Regions from separate parts of the Homo sapiens genome. Here region 2 is linked to region 1. Evidence: fine-mapped expression QTL. A gene starts in region 1. The other region holds a variant in brackets. All regions are shown on one strand. Distances are from middle to middle.

Region 1 (8,649 bases):
TACCAAATATAGCTCTGCGTCTCCACCTCCGCCATTCCTCTTGCTGGGTGTTCTCTCTCTCCCACCACCAATCCAAACTCTACCCATCTTTCAAAGCACCATTTAGTCCCTAGAATCCTTAGTTGGCTCCTCTCATTTTTAATATAACATCTTTGAGGTAGGCATTGTGCATACTTCATAGTACCTTGCAAGTATTAGACTTAGAATAAAACTGTGTTGACTGATATAACTGATGCATGGTTGGAATAGTAGGTTCTTGGGTAAATTAATCCTAACATCAATAGCTCAATTCCATCATAGTCCTTGAACAGGCAAAATGTATGCTAATCACAACAGCCGTACTCCTAGGTCATGTATATAGGGGAAAATGTTACACTTTATATAAAAATATTATTTCTGAAAGAAAATTTATTCATTCAACAAATATTAATTAAACATTTATTTTGTGTTAGGCATGGTTTTACTGGAGATAATGTGACCTTCTCACTGTGTTTCTAGTCTTGTGGGCAGAGAAAGACAAGAAAAAAATTAGTAAAAGATATAGTATGCTAGATGATAATACATATTATGAAGTAAAACAAAGCAAGAAAGAGGGACTGGGGCCGGGCGAGGTGGCTCACACCTGTAATCCCAGCATTTCGGGAGGCCGAGGCGGATCACCTGAAGTCAAGAGTTTGAGATCAGCCTGGCCAACATGGTGAAACCTTGTCTCTACTAAAAATACAAAAATCAGCCAGGCGGAGTGGAGCACACCTGTAGTCCCAGCTACTCGGGAGGCTGTGGCAGGAGAATTGCTTGAACCTGGGAGGCAGAGGTTGCAGTGAGCCAAGTTCAGGCCACCGCACTCCAGCCTGGGTGACAGAGCAAGACTCCGTCTCAAAAAAAAAAAAAGAAAGAGAAACTGGGATTTGGGGGAGCTGCAATTTATTACTTGACTGTAAAAGATGGCCTCTGACTGTCTGAGAAGAAGGCATGTAAGTTAAGACCTGAGAGGAGTGGTGAGTAGGGAAGCTATGCAAGTATCTCAGGGATTGCATCCCATATGGAAAGAACAAAAATCCCTAAGGCCCATGTGTAACTGGTGTGCTAAGTAGCAATAAGAAGTAGGATAAATAAGGGAGGGACTCTTAGGAAATTAATTAGGAAGGCTAAAGAGGGGGGTACAGACTGTAGAGCCTTTTTTTTTTATGGTCTGTGCCTATAATCCTGAGAGAGCTGGGGAGCCTCTGGAGAGTCTTTGGCAAAGGTGTGAAGTTTTATGACTTTTGATTTAAAATTACTATTCTCGCTGCTGTTTTCAACACACTCAAGGAAAGAGAAGAAATGGGGAGATTCATTAGAAAGCTAGTGCAATAATTTTGGCGAGAAATAATAGGGACAGAGACCAAGATGTATACCATGGAGAAAAAGAAACAGAAATATTCTATCCACTGACTGATTTTGGCAAAAATGAATACATATAAGAATTCACACAGACATTAAATTATTGCAAAGTACAGGCTACAAACATAGCTTTCTTACAGATGAGTTCAGGTAAACGTACTGAAGCTCTAGCCTGATACCTTTGAAATTGTATTTAATAGGCATGCCCAATGAGGAAGCATTTTTCTTACTAGGTAGAAGTTAATTTAGCTATAGAGAAAATGAAAAGTTTATTTTTTTAAGGTGTTTTCAAGCCTATTTTACTAAGTGCACATTTGATAGTTATTCCAGTTGTGTAAACCAATTCTGCATTGGATAAATGTGTATTTTCAGTTTACCTTAGTGTAATTTCAAGAAAGAATAACTGTCAGAAAATAACAATACTAAGAGAGAATTTACACACTTTATCTTTGCAAAAGAAAATAATTTGATATTTACTATTCTAATATAATTTGTAAAATAAGCTATGCAACTGCAGAAACTGCAAAAATTAAAGACTGTTAAATCTCAGTGTAGCTGCCATGTGCATATAGAGACAAAACAGACATTACATACATCACCAGTTGGCAAATTAGCCCCCTTGCAGAGGGAAATTTCCTCTTCTTTCTTTCCAATTAGAATGCTGGCCTTTCATTGCTTGCTCTTCGCAGTGCTGTTACTACTTGAAAATACAGCTCCCTGATCATAACCTGCTGCAGATACATTTTTTCAAATACTCAGGATTGGCTGGCTGTTCACCTCACTTGTGTTGGAAAAGAAATGTCAGCCTTGTTACATACAGCCTCCCAAAGTTACTGCTAGCTTATCTAAATGAATTACATAATTCTCTGCTCCTTCCTTGCTGGGGAGGGCTTGTTCAACAGACTGCTGCCTTAAGACAATAAAGACTAATAAAGTAGTAGTCACGGAAGAGCACTCGGTCTAGTCCTGGGTGGGGAACCTGGTCGGGTTAGCTTTCTGCTCCCTCGCTTGCTTCGCCAGAGAGCCGGCCCAGGGTCGAGAACAAACAGCTACTGCTTTTCTGTTCCAGACCTGACAGACAAGCTCCACATGTCCCCTGCCTGTGTGTGCCATCCCGCCCGTCATGCTTTCTCATAGGATGGGGAGTGGGGGAAGCAATGCGTGCTCTGTGTGTGTGTGAGTGTGAGTGTGTGTACATGGAAACACACTCTCTTTTGCTCCTCTCCCCTAGGTTTTTCCTGTGCTCCAGAAGTTATCAAACAACGAAATGGGAAATGGGACATGTTCAGTCAAAATTCCTGTTGGCACGCTTACCCACCCACCTTTTTCATATTGCGTAACTAGGTGAATCGCCCGAAATTTACTCCATTCCTGACTCCCTACTACACACACATACACACACTCTCACTCTCTCTCTCTCTCTCATCAAAAAACCTTTCTACCAGTGATAAGAGACTGGCAAAAGAGAAAAGATATAAACAACCAAAACCAAGCAGATCCCAAACCGAAGTCAATTCTCTCTCTTTGGCCCAACATCAGACCTTAAAACATTCTTATCTCTCCAGTCTACCTGGGAACCAATGGCACACCCTATCAAGACACCTCCACCTCCTGTCCATTCCCAATCTCCTAACCCAGCCACGTTCCATCATTACTTTTCTAAAAGAAAGAGCTAAAGAGTTCCCTGATTAGAACTCCGATGATTAAAAGCTTCGGGTGTCTATCGGGGCGCAGCGCCACACTCGAAGCGCCCGGTACTGCGGAGCGCGGCTCGATTGCAGCCGAGAAGCGCGGAACCCGCAAGTGGGGGTGGGCTTGCGCGCTGGGGTCCGCGCCGAGGGCTACTCCCACCTCCGCCAGCTCCCAGCCCGACACCTGCCGCGGGACCCGTGCGACGCTGGGCGACGCGCCAAGCCCACCCTTCTCCGGCTCATCCCAGCCAGTTACTCCGCGAAAACTCCGGTGCGGCCAGAGCCAGCGCCTCCAGCCAGCTCAAGACACGTAAGGAAAATGAGCGGGTGTGGGATAGGCGAACTCGGGCGCCTTCCCAGTGCCTCGGCCTTTTAAAGAGAACCGGGGTAAAGGAAAACTTGGATCCCCATCCAGAAATTCCCCGGGAGCAGGTGGTGGGAAAGCCCGAACTCCGCGTAGGGTACCCTCTCCTTTCACCCGCGTCGTCCCCATACCCTTCGGCAGGAGCCCGCGAACGGTCCGGTGATTTGGAGCAACCTGCGACCTGCCTGCACTGGAGACCCCACCTTGGTCCCCCAGAGCCAGTTTCGGACACTCGCATCGTTTTTCTTCCCCTCTCATCCTTCACCTTGTCAATGAGAGATTTCGCAGAAGTCTCTGGAAAGGCATAAACTCGCAACTTACCCTCTTTGGAATTTGTCTTTTTCGCTCCTGCTTATTAAAGAAGGAAGGGTGGGAATGGAAGGGAGCAGAGTGGGGAAGATCCGCTGGTATTTCTCCTGCTCAGATCCTAAAGATTGATGAAGCTAGGAAGAGACGCCTCCTTAAAGCCGAACTCCACCTCATCCCGGATCACGTGACGGCGTCCCGCGAGTAGCGCCTGAAGCTCCCCCAACCCCACAAACACCTCACAAAGGTGCACACCTCGGGGAAGCATTGCCTAGGAATTTTGGAAAGAAAAGCAATCCAACAGAAGCCACACATTATTCGACACAGACCTCCCGCGCAGGGGAAAGGAAGCCCTAATCCCCACAGTCCTCGACTCCGGGGAAGGCAGGGCAGTTTCCCGAGGCTTGAAAAAGTCGGTGCCACTGTGCTTTTCTTTGTTTGCAGGTCAGTGCCATCTTGTGGCCGAAGTCATACCCGGCTGGAGAGCTCGAGCGCCAGCCCAAACCAGGAATCAAAGGGCTCGCTGGGAAACATGAAATTCGCCACAATAATGGCACTAATATTTTCTTTTGCTTTCTTTTGTGACGCTCAAATAACTCTCACGCCAGTGCCGAGAATTTGTTTTCCTCACTTTATAAGTGAACAAAGAGAAGACCTTTAAAAAGTCAAAGCAGTCAATCGGCCCTCCTTTCTTTGGCCCACTGAGAAAATGCATTAAGTCAGATTTGTTCCCAGCGCTTAGCTGCTTTTTAGTTTTTTTAGGGGAGAACCATGAGCTGAATATTTCCCTGGTGGTCGAAAAGCGTCAATGCAATTTTCTCGGTGATTAGTACTACAGTACTGAACATTATGAAGAAAAAAATAGAATGTACACCGAGTACGTTGAAGGCGGCCAAACCCATCATGGTGCCCGATGATTCAGGCCAATTACTGGCACACTGATCTTAGATGTTTTACCTGATTCTATTCTAGTTTCAAAAGTCAAAGTTGTAAACACACACATACACACACACACACACAAATTATGTAGACGATGAACTGATGCAAATGAGTAGAACTTCTTCCAAATAAAATTGTTAAAAATAAGAAGTCTTTCTAATAAAGATACAGGGCACTGCCCAGAGAATTTATAAAGATTTCATTAGAAAACAATTCTAATGGCAGTCTTTCTTCTAATTAAAATCAAAATAAAATTCCAAGACAAGTGGACTCATCTGAACTTTATACTGTTAAAAAACGTTTTCTTTTTCTGATTGTTAGGCTGAATAAACATATTTAAGGTTCAGTATAAGCTCATTTATATAGATAGTGATGAACACAATCTCTGGATGTTTTTCCAAGAAAGCTTTCCAAAATATGTGTCACTAGACATATTTTTATATAGTTGGAAAGGCATTGTAATTAAGAATTAAAATGTCATGATTATGTAATGATTGTACTATTAGTGTATAACAACAGATATAAGCATACATATAAAAATCTCTAATGGTTAAGCAGAGTAAAATGACAACAGATTCATTTATACACACACACACATATACACACACATACTTTTTTTTTTAACCAAGGCACAATAATTTTTACCAAGGCACAATTTAGGAATTTCAACTCTTTCAGGGAAGAATAACTAATATTCATTCAGGTTTCTATGCATCCTCTGTCTACTCTATTGCCTTAAGTCACATTCTGTTCTTAGAAGGAAGTTTTCCCCATGGTTTTGATCATCAAATTGGCTATCTTTAGCCTGCTATAAGAATTACAAATGAAGTAATTTAATTCTCTACTAAGAATATATTTTTATGTAGAAACTATTATTATGTCAGCAAATATTTTGGACTTGAGAATATAATTTGGACTCAGGTACTATGCTTTCTCTATTTCCCAAGAATACTAATAAAGGCATGTCTGCCAGAGTTCTGAACTATTATGGCCATTGTATTTTATCATTTTATTAACTCAATTTTTATGAAGTGTTCTCCCTAAGGAAAATTTGTGAAACTGCATTCTTGAGTTATTAATGTCAGATACCAATCTTTGAAAGATCATTGGTCTCAAGGACTCTTTTCTATGACAACTTTATGATACAAAGAGAAGTTCTGAAATACTCAACAGTGGCTGGGGGCGGTGGCTCACGCCTGTAATCCCAGCACTTTTGGAGGCCTAGGCAGGTGGATCATGAGGTCAGGAGTTCGAGACCAGGCTGGCCAACATAGTGAAACCCCGTCTCTACTAAAAATACAAAAATTAGCCAGGTGTGGTGGTGCGCATCTGTAATCCCAGCTACTCAGGAGGCTGAGGCAGGAGAACTGCTTGAACCCAAGAGGCAGAGGTTGCAGTGAGCCGAGATCGCACGACTGCACTCCAGCCTGGGCAACAGAGCAAGACTCTGTTTTGGAAAAAAAAAAAAAAAAAAAAAGAAATGCTCAACAGCAAAATTATATAATTCTTTAGGAATACCATTTACTAGGATTCTTTCCAATGTGAAAAATAGAGAAATTAGACATGGTCCAATGGCCAAACACAACATAAAATTCTCCAATAATGTAATCTTATAGAAGATTTAAAATATGCAAAGTAGTTTGAATTTCTTAGAAAATACTTATTAAAGAGTTTCCTCATTCCAATTTTAAGATCATATATTTTTCTACTCTTCAGTGAATAATCAGCTGCCTACTTTCCTATCTGGGATTCAAACTAGATAAAACTTCATCTTTGCTAGGGAGAATTTTTTCTTTATTTCTGTGTATTTCTTTCTGTAGTTTCATAACAGCCTGACCTATAAACCAAGGGGAATTATGTTAATGACCTAATCTCATGCTCTCTTGAACAACAGTCTTGCTCTGTGATATAAACTGAGGGATAGGATCTACTCATTAAATTTCTGTAAATCTAAGTTTTGTATTCTAAACAATGGAACAAACTTATGGCCTGGCTCAGCCTTTAAATTCCATGATTCAGTAACTGCTTAAATAAAAGTGTGACAGTATGCTTGCTACTGGAATTGAAACACACTAATTACTAGTCTTCTGAGGAATTTCTGCTACAAGAGTTAAAGTTTCTGAAATGCTATCAGGCCTTGATACAGGTAAATTACCATGAATTGTCACTCAGAAGAAACTTAATAGGCATTAATACTACACGAGAAAACTGAAATGTATATGACATTGATAAGGGGGTAATTCCATGGGGGTAGAACTATGATGAAGCACGTCAGTGAATCAGTTCATATTCTATGAATTGATTTTGTGTCAGGATTTTCCTTCTTTCTGTGACTTACCTGCTGCATTTCTTTGGATCTTTGACGCCCAAGAATGTAAAGCACAATTTTATTTTATGGACCACCAAGAAAAAAATGCTTTCAGTAAAGCAATGGCATACCATCAATAGCAAATGAATATTAAAATATTAAAATGCTTTTTAAGCCCACATTTTAAAGCCAATGAAATATAGTTGGTAAAGAGTTTTGACTTAATCAGCACAATCAAATAGTCAGTACAATCATTTTATTCATCTGACTTTTGGAGAGCATTAACTAGCAGAAAAAAAGTGATGATTAATTTAGTTAAAAATGTGAGTATACAAGTGCACAGACAATTCAATGATCTCCTTTGTGCAGAAAACACACAATACTATTTGTGGATTTTCTCTTGATCTTGATTTGAAATGTGAATGCCTTTCAGTAAAGTTCTCATTTTGTTACATGGGCTGCATATTTCGGGGCATTTTTAAAAACTCTGTCACAATAAGGCTCTAGACAAGTAGGATCTTAAAATTTAGTAAATAGCCAAATCTTTTTCTGCATGCCTTATACTTTCAGATACCCTTTAGACATTCAAAAAAAAGTGTAATGTTATATTACAAAACCATAACATTATGTTTTTACTATATGATATAATGAAAGGAGCTTTGCCACTGTTACTATTACTGTTTTTAATAATTATTATTACTATTCCCTTCATATATTCTTTTGAAGAGACAAAATAAAAATAGCTGGCAAAAAGAATAAGTATGAATGCCACCACAACAGCTCTCATCATCTGTGACAAACATCTCTACTTGGTCGTCTTGCCCCTGACTCCCGCTCCCCAAAATCTCAAGCTTGGTATTAGACTTTCTCACAGCACAACACTTCAGATGGCCAATGTCAATAGATCAGACTTTGCCTATGAAGAAAAGCTATGAAGGTATAATTTTTTCTAAAGAAAGGAGAAAGACTGGGTGCAGTGGCTCATGCCTGTAATCTCAGCACTTTGGGAGGTCAAGGCGGGTGGATCACCTGAGGTCAGGAGTTCGAGACCAGCCTGGCCAACAAGGTGAAACCCTGTCTCTACTAAAAATATAAAAATCAGCCAGGCATGGTGGCATGTGCCTGTAATTCCAGCTACTCGGGAGGCTGAAGCAGGAGAATCACTTGAATCTGGGAGGCAGAGGTTGCAGTGAGCTGAGATTGCACCACTGCATTCCAGCCTGGGCAACAGAGTGATACTGCATCTCTAAATAAATAAACAAATAAATAGGAGAAAGTGTTTTTTTTTTGTACACCTACATAATAGCACAAGCAGGTGCATGCAAAAATGGCACGAAATGTTCTGAGGCATCATTTTGCTAAGGTAAGTATCCTCCTTTCATTCCTTTGTTTAAGGTCTAGCTATTGCTTCCTTTCCCCAGATACAAATACATCTAGAAAGAGTACACACATCTAAGGATGGTCAATGGTATAATATGACCCACCTGATCTTATGAGATTGTTTAGCTGCCACTCTCCGCTAGCATAGCATGTAGGTTAAAGCTCAACTGTGCAGATTATTGCAACTACAAATTCAAAACCTTCACTGAGCCTTAAATATTACCCAGAAATGCCTTGGCTTGGGTGATTACCAATCTCTCTCCTTTTAGAAGCTATTT
Region 2 (8,649 bases), 140 kb after region 1:
GTGGAAGAAGAGGACAGACACGACCTCCGCTGCACTGCAGCACGACGTGAGCTGGCCAGAACCAGAGGCACACGTGGCCCTGATGGAATGGATCCGCAGGCGGTTGGCTGTGTCCCGCAGCACCTGCACGGTCTTCACGTCGGGCTTGGCGTCGTTGGCCATCATCTCTCTTTTGTCGGTTTGGCAAAGCAAACGGCGCCGCAGCACCCCCACAACCCACCGCGGCAGTGCTCTCACGTGACCGCCCCGCCCTCGCCTCCCCTCTGCCTGAAGGCCTGAGCTCAGCCACCAGCCGGGGCGCCCACAACGGAGCTTCCCGCGAGACTGAGGAAACGGAAACGTTGGAGTAGCCTGCACCCTCTGATGTGCACCGTTCCCTCTCCCTGTCCACGCCCAGCTGAATGGATTTTTAGTATTTACTTTGTCACGTGCATGTTCAACATTAGGAAGCATAATTAAATTTTTTACCTTTCCCTGTGTTATAAATTCAAGACTAGACATTTTTCTGTGTATTATAGGAAGCGATTTGTCAGGCTGTGCTTTTTTAATGCATTAACACTATATCCGAGTCATCACTCTTTCATATCAGAACATTAATAGAAAGGATACAAAGTCACTTTCAATCTGACCAGTATGGCAATGCTATCTCAACAGAGACTTTCTCAGAGCAACCAAATATCTGAATCTCAGACTTATAGAAAGAAATGCAATGACTAATTTGACCAAAATTTATAGGAAGAACAAATCTGAAACCACCCAATTGCAGAATAGAATTGCAACTCCAGTGTGCCGTAAAGTACTATTTCTGTGTTGAAATAATTAGAAGGCCAGTAGGCTGAGGTAGCTTCAGCTCCATGAGTTCCTACCTAAGGAAAGGAAACCCAAATCAGTGTAAATGATAAAAAGGAAATTTAAGCTTAATCAATCAGAAACTGCCAGCTAACTTCTAACTGGGGACTTTCCACTGGGATGACCCAAATAAGTCTAGTACTCCACTTTAACCAATCAAATATCTTTCCTTTGCTTCCAAATTCACCCTATAAAAGCCTTCTCCTTGGCTCCTTTATCAGGAGCTACCAGATTCATGAATCACTGAATGGTCAAATAAATGCTTTAATATTTTAATGTGCCTCAGTTTATCTTTTAATGACTATTACTACAAATCATTTTTAAGACAAAGTTACTTACTTTAAAAAACTAAATTTGTGGGCCGGGTGCTGTGGCTCACACCTGTAATCCCAGCACTTTGGGAGGCCGAGGCAGGCGGATCACAAGGTCAGGAGTTCGAGACCATCCTGGCTAACACGGTGAAACCCCGTGTCTACTAAAAATACAAAAAAATTAGCTGGGCGTGGTGATGGGCACCTGTAGTCCCAGCTACTCGGGAGGCTGAGGCAGGAGAATGGCGTGAACCTGGGAGGTGGAGCTTGCAGTGAGCCCAGATTGTGCCACTGCACTCCAGCCTGGGAGACAGAGCGAGACTCCGTCTAAAACAAAAAAAACTAAATTTGTGCCATTGAACTCTTCTAGCAGGCCAAGGTTATGGTTTGTCATCAATAAAACAACAATTAAAAAAAACACAATGATAATATATCATACCTTCCCATATTGCGATGTTAAACCTCTTGGTTTCTTGAGCAATAATTCTTACCTTAACTTCACGTTAAAATTAGGGCACATAAGAAACACAATGCCTGGTTCCATCCCAGAAAAATAGAATTTGAATTTCTGGACCTGGAGTCTGGGAAGCTATGTTTCTAAAATACATCCATTGATTATAATGGGTAGTCAAGGTTAATAACATAATCTGGAGATAGTCTGAGACCAGTGGTTCTCAACATTAGTTGTAGTTTAGAATTATCTGGGAAGTTTTAAAAACATCTCATGTCCATGCTGCACTCCAGACCAATTATATCAGAATTTCTAGGCAATAGATCTAGGCGTCAGTAATTTTAAAATCTTCCCCAGGCAATTTCAATGTTCAGTCAGGGTTGTAAACAACTAACTCAGGGGGTGTTGTTACTCTTTATACTTATTATCTCTTGCATTATATCTCAGAAAAATATTTCAAATGTTATTTGCTATTTCAACTAGTTCTATCATTTTAACTTTTAAGGACACATATTAGAATAAATAGTAATAATATGACACTACTGATTTTAAGACTTGTTGCAGGAATGTTGGCATTGGAGAAGTTCTTAAGAGGTCATCATGTATCCATAACTCTCCATGTCCTTTGCAAATTAAAGCTTGTTTATCTTTTTAGACAAATAAAGGAGGAGGAAATACAAGCAGACTAGGCTAGAACTGGTAGTACAGAAGATGGGAATTAGAGAAAAAATAATAATCACAGTAAAATAATAGCAAACTACTACAGGCTGACAGGAAAGTAGTTAATATAAACACAGGTAGCTCACCATTATTTTGGCCAAAAAGAACTCTAATAAATCCACACAATTAGTAAACATGATAGTACAAAAATGATTTATGAGGCAATGTTCCCATGAATAAAAACATGGGACTTCTTAACATTTCTTTCCAAGTTCCCACATTCTTTCACTCATTTAAAACATTGCACAGCTATTTCCTAAAGTATTAAATAAAAAAATTTTAACATTAGCAAAGGTCAATTTTATTAAGAGAAGAATGTAGTCTTGGAGATTTAATACCCTAGATAGTGAGTGTGAATTTCCCTCTATCATTCTGTGAGACCGTGTGAATTTTTTATACTATATAGAAAATAATATTTTATAAATTATGTGTAAAATACTTATAAACCATTCTGAGATTTTGTAAAAGGAACTCTGGAAAGATATATATATATATATATATATAAATATATAAAAGTATATATATAGTAAAATATCTGGAAAGATATACTATATATAAAAGTATATATATTATATATAAAAACTCATATCAATATATGTAATATATATTAAGTTTATATAAAATTAATTTTATATTAATATGTTATATAAATAACATATATAAGCTGTTAATTATTTTCTTTAAGCATTTTAGTCTTTTAAATTTGAAATATATTTTAAAATATACAATTGAAAATATATAAATACAGGTAGAGCATCCCAAATTTGAAAATCTGATGTTTCCAATGCTCCAAAATCTGAAACATTTTGAGCACTGACATGTTACTCAGGGGAACTGCTCAAAGGACATTTTGGATTTGGGATTTTTCTGATTTGGAATGTTCCGTTGTTAAGTATAATGCAGATATTCCAAATTTTTTTTTAATTGAAATCCAAAACACTTCTGGTCTCAAGCAAATAATTTCAACTAAAGAATACTCAACTTGTTTAAAGTATGCACAATTTCATAATGCAAAATTACCCAATATGGCTGGGAACACAACTTCGTCAAATAAATCAAACAAAGACGTGATACCACCTTCTCCCCTATTTAGAAGACAAAATAGGGGAGCCAAACCCTATTTGGCTGACAAAATGTCAGCCAAAAACTTTTAAACCAGCACGCCAAAAATGTAGTTGTCTTGGAGAAAAGTTCATTATTCATTTTAGAGATCATTTTGGAAGCCAGTCAAAAATGTTCTGCAAATAGGAAAACATTATTCATTTATTATTAATCTTGGTTTATCCAGACAAAGCAGAGATTGGCAAATTCAAGTGCCTACTGGGATAAGGAGTTACCACGAGTGCTTGGATGTCAGCTATAAGAGGGTTAGAGGGGCCTGTGTTAAACTGGAGAATACAAGACCACTTAAAGGCATTCAAAATTGAAAAAC[T/G]TATAAACATTTTGTTGGAAAAATAAAATATACCTTCAGGCTGCCACTTTTGACCCCAATTTAAAGTCTATTTAAAAGCAGCAATAATTTTTGTTTTAACTTTGCTTAAATTTTTCACTTAATTTTTTCTCATAGTATCTAAAAGTATTCATTATAGCGTGTACTTCACATGAAAACAAAATCTAACAGGATTACCAATACAAGTAGCTATGAGGGAAAAACTTAAATAGTAGCAATTGATAAGTGTAATTTCTACTGAGCTGCAGCAGAGAAAACAGAACACACAATTACCGATTACTGAGTAGGTCTACACTGATTTGTGAAAATAGATATTTTGCCATGTGAGGGTGAGTGATATTTAGGAGTTGGGAACGCTGAAATTTTACTTAAATCTTATTTAAACTGTTAAGTTTTGTTAAAATGGAATTATATAAAATACATAAATGCTGAATTCATCTTTTGCTTCCACTGTTTAAATTTGGTTGGCTTTGGAAGCTAAAGTATGGAGCAAATGAGAATAAGATTCTTGTGTAAGGCAATAAGTCTCCTGGAAAGAAAAATGTACTTTATCTTCCTGGATTATTGCTTTGAAAATTTTAACAGATGCTATTATGATGCATCTGTAGGATGCTATCCCACTTTTTCCACAGTTACAAGTCCTTATTTTGCGGTGGAGAGAGAAGGGGCAGAAGAGAGAGGTGGCAACAAATTTAAGAAACTTGGCCCAGCTCCTAGTCCCAGGAGAAAATCATAATTAATGTAGGACCAGCATCACAATGCCATTCCCTTTGGCTAGTAATGGCAGTCAGCACTTATTGACCCAGTTCTGGTCAATAAGATGTAAGTAAAAGTCTGCTTTGGGTGTAATAATTCTCATCGTTTCTTTCTTTTAGAGATGGGGTATTGCTATGTTTCTCAGGCTGGTTTTGAACTCCTGGCCTCAAGTGATCCTCCTGCCTGGTCTCCCAGCTGGTAATAATTTCTATTAAAGATTTTCTTCCTGGTAAACAGGAGAGAGTACAAGAAGAACTGTGATCTCTTCTTTTTTTTTTTTTTTTGGGATGGAGTTTTGCTCTTGTTGCTCTGTCATTTAGTAGAGACAGTGTTTCACCATGTTGACTAGGCTGGTCTTGAACTCCTGACCTCAGGTGATCCGCCCACCTCCGCCTCCCAAAGCGCTGGGATTACAGGCATGAGACACCACGCCCAGCCATTCTTTTCAACCCCTCTACCACCACCACCAGAGGATGTGTTGGAGCTATAGCAGCCAAAAGCCTAAGGATAAGGCCAGGCGCTGTAGATCAATTATTAGCCACTTTTCCTGTAAACCTAAAAGAAATTAAAATAAATAGTGCAGGCCGGGCACAGTGGCTAACGCCCAGCGCTTTGGGAGGCTGAGGTGGGCGGATTGCCTGAGGGCAGGAATTTGAGACCAGCCTGGCCAACATGGTGAAAGCCTGTCTCTACTAAAAATACAAAACTTAGCTGGGCAACGTGCTGCACATCAGTAATCCCAGCCACTTGGGAGGCTGAGGCAAGAGAATTGCTTAAACTTGGGAGGTGGAGGTTGCAGAGAGCTGAGGTGGCGCCACTGCACTCCAGCCTGGGCGATGGAGTGAGACTCCATGATTAAAAAAAAAAAAAACCTACAGATAAAAGTTAACGTGCTTAGTACGGTAGACTGGAAAAATAGAAAGTATGAGTTCTTCATAACTTCGTGGGTCCACAAGCCTTGAGACCAGCTTCTTCTAGACTCCTTGTTAAGAAAAAAATTAAATATTCCCACTTTATGAATGAGTTTCTGTTATCTTCAACTGAAAACATTTCTGGGAGATACAAAAATAGATCCCCTAAACAAGCTCCTGTAAGTCTAGTAATCAGGGAAAAAAACAAGAAAAACAATCAAGACGGCTCACAGTAGAAGAGAAGGGGCTCTAGAAAATGTAGTTTACTCAGTATTTTTATTCTCAGTGCCTGGTCCCACCCACACACCTACAACTTTGGTCTTTTTTGTATAATTACTATTGCTATGTTGCTGTTGTTGTTATTACATTGACTATCTCTTCAAAAACTAGGATTTTTAAACTTGGTACATGGGCTTTATGTATAGAAAACACTCAGATACCTTATCATATTCATTTGCTGTCTGGCCTAGATGGTTGGGTATGATGGAAATATGAAAATGATATAGCTGGATTTATTCTCATATAGACTAGCTACATTTAGTGGAGAAAATGCTTTTCCTTCCATCCAGATAATAACCTTGAAGTAGATTACAACAAAATCTCTTACTTTTGAAAACTAAAATATAATAACAAATGATAGCAATAGTAATTTTTTAAAATCCAAGGTATTAGACTTATATTACTGATTGTAAATCAGTATGATCAGCTTTAAATATATGAGAGGAATTTAATTCATTCTATAAACCATTTTTATTAGATACTACTATTGTATGCATTAAATAGTGGATTAGTACTTGCGCCATGTCCCACCTAACTCCTTCCCATCCTCAGGTCAAATTCAGCCCTTTGTTGAGATTTTATTTTGGCTAGAATATTTTAGCAAATGTATTGAGTTACAAACAACAAACAATAACAGTAATAACATTAATCCATTTAACCAACAAATTAATGAATTTTGGCAAATGTTTATTTCTATTTAGCTATCACAACAATCAAAATATAACTTCAATATTTCTATCGTCCTCAAACATTCCTGTATGCTTTGGCATTCAGTTATTCTTCACCCTAGGCTCCACTGATTTGCTTTCTGTCTCTGAGGTTCTGTTCCTTTTTGTTTTTTATTCTTTCCCCTTCTGAACTTCAGTTTGGATAGTTTCTATTGCAGTGTCTTAAAGTTCACTGAATTTTTCTTCTGCAGTGTCTAATCTGCTCTGAATCCCATCCTTTGAATTTTTTATTTCAAATATTATACTTTTTATCATTAGAAGTTCCATTTGGTTCTTCTTTATATCTTACTGTCCTCATAATATTAATCTCCTTTTAATTCTTCTAGAATATATATATATAAATATATATATATATATATATATATAAAATTTCTTTTTTTGAGACAGAGTTTCACTCTTATCACCCAGGCTGGAGTGCAATGGAGCAATCTTTGCTCACTGCAACCTTTGCCTCCCAGGTTCAAGCGATTCTCCTGCCTCAGCCTGCCCAGTTACTGGGACTACAGGTGTGTGTCACTACACCTGACTAATTTTTTGTATTTTTAGTAGAGACGGGGTTTTGCCATGTTGGCCAGACTGGTCTTGAACTCCTGATCTCAGGTGATCTGCCTGCCTCAGCCTCCCAAAGTTGTTGGTATTACAGGCGTGAGCCACTATGCCTGGCCCTTCTAGCATATTTTAAGAAGATTTTTTTAAAAGTCCTTGTCTACTAAGCCTATTATTCGGTCTCTCTGTTTCCATTAACTAATTTTTCTTCTGATAATGTGTTACACTGTCCAGTTTTATGGAATATCTAGTTTTTAAATTAAATGCTTGACATTATTTTGGGAGGTTGGATTTTATTTTATTGTATATTTTTAAAGAGTGTTGGACTTTGTTCTGAGAAGCCACTCATTCCTTTCGAGTATTTTAAGTCTGTTAAGGCAAATGTAGGGTATGCTTTACTCTAGTGTTAGTTTAGCTCCCCTACAAAAGCATAATCTCTCCAGGGTTTCCACCGAATGCGCCGGTGTGTTCAATCAGGCCCCTCAACTCTGGCTGGCTAGGACTCAAGTGTGGCTTAGCTTCTGTGAGTTCTGGGAACTGTTTGGTTATCACCTTTCCCAAGTTGTCATTTTCCTGGCCATGTAAGATGTATGCTTTATGCAAAGGTACTCTAAAGATTTCTGGAGCTCTTTGGGCAGTTTCTCCTTATAATCATTCTGCCTTCAAAATGCTAGCCAACATAGGATTCCTGAGCTCCAATCTCTGTTGCCTTATTTGCCATGCTGTGTGTCAGATGCCCTTCCCTGTAGCACTGTCTGGAAAGGGCCTCTAGGAAGAAAGCCAGAAAGATAATGTTTTCTCTCTTTCATAGACCACGATCCTGTGCTGCCTGTTTTCCAATATATGAAAACTATTACCTTATAAACTTTGTCTAGCTTTCTAGTTGTTTATGGCTGGAGGGTAAATCTCATTCCAGTTACTTCCTCATAGCCTCAGAACAGCATTTAAAATGTTTTGAATGTTAATACTTTATACTGGGCATATATTCTCCAGAAAACGGTATCCCAACTCACACTACTCCTTATGTCTAGCACCCCTCTGATTCCCACATTTATATTACTTCTTGAACCCAGAAGACTTTGGAATTTCCAATTACACCAATTGTTACTAACCCTTATGGTGTCATTTTAAAAAGATGTCCCTCAAAGCATGGTCTAATGAAATTTTAATTTTTAAGAACTATCAAAAAAATTTCATTGTTATGGTTAAATTTTCCAGAGAGATTTAGTACTGCTCTGATAAACCCAAAAACCCTTGGCATTTGTATGATTTTAAATTAAATTCTCTAAAACATATCAAATAACTGCCTTTCTTCTTATAAAGGGGATGTGGAGCATTAACCTTTTCTTTGATGACTAATGGTCATCATTATGACCACTGGCTATTAAGCTTTATTGAAATTCAATCAAATAAATCAAAATTACTATTGAGAATGGTGCTTAAGGAAGGTTATTCCAGCATCTTTGTTCAGAATAAATGTTCAATTTTTATTACTCTACTGTAGTATATTTTTCAGGGTATGTAGCTGTAGTAACAAAATAACCAAAAAAAAAAAAAAAAAAAAAAAAAAAGGAAGTGGCTCAAGCAAGATTTAAGTTTATTTTTCCTTCACATAAATGCTCAGAGTATGCTTGGAAGTCAGGCAGCT

Direction of the effects. Positions count from the first base shown, and alleles are read on the strand shown. Sizes are in standard deviations (SD) of each study's normalised expression.
In carriers of allele T in region 2, the expression in gastroesophageal junction of the gene that starts at base 3,874 in region 1 tends to be higher than with G alone (small effect, 0.23 SD a copy in GTEx).

Evidence for each region. PIP is the estimated chance that this variant, and not a neighbour inherited with it, causes the effect. A credible set is the group of variants that fine-mapping cannot tell apart.
Region 2: its variant is the best candidate, but not a certain one, in a credible set for the expression of NPY1R in gastroesophageal junction (GTEx, PIP 0.57).

Annotation. Positions count from the first base shown.
Region 1 is chr4:163,328,723-163,337,371 of GRCh38, forward strand. NPY1R (neuropeptide Y receptor Y1) reads right to left here and starts at 3,874. Exons shown (of 3, transcript NM_000909.6): 1 at 3,760-3,874.
Region 2 is chr4:163,473,570-163,482,218 of GRCh38, forward strand. TKTL2 (transketolase like 2) reads right to left here and starts at 185. Exons shown (of 1, transcript NM_032136.5): 1 at 1-185. The coding sequence starts at 165. The variant T/G (reference allele first, on the strand shown) is at 3,764.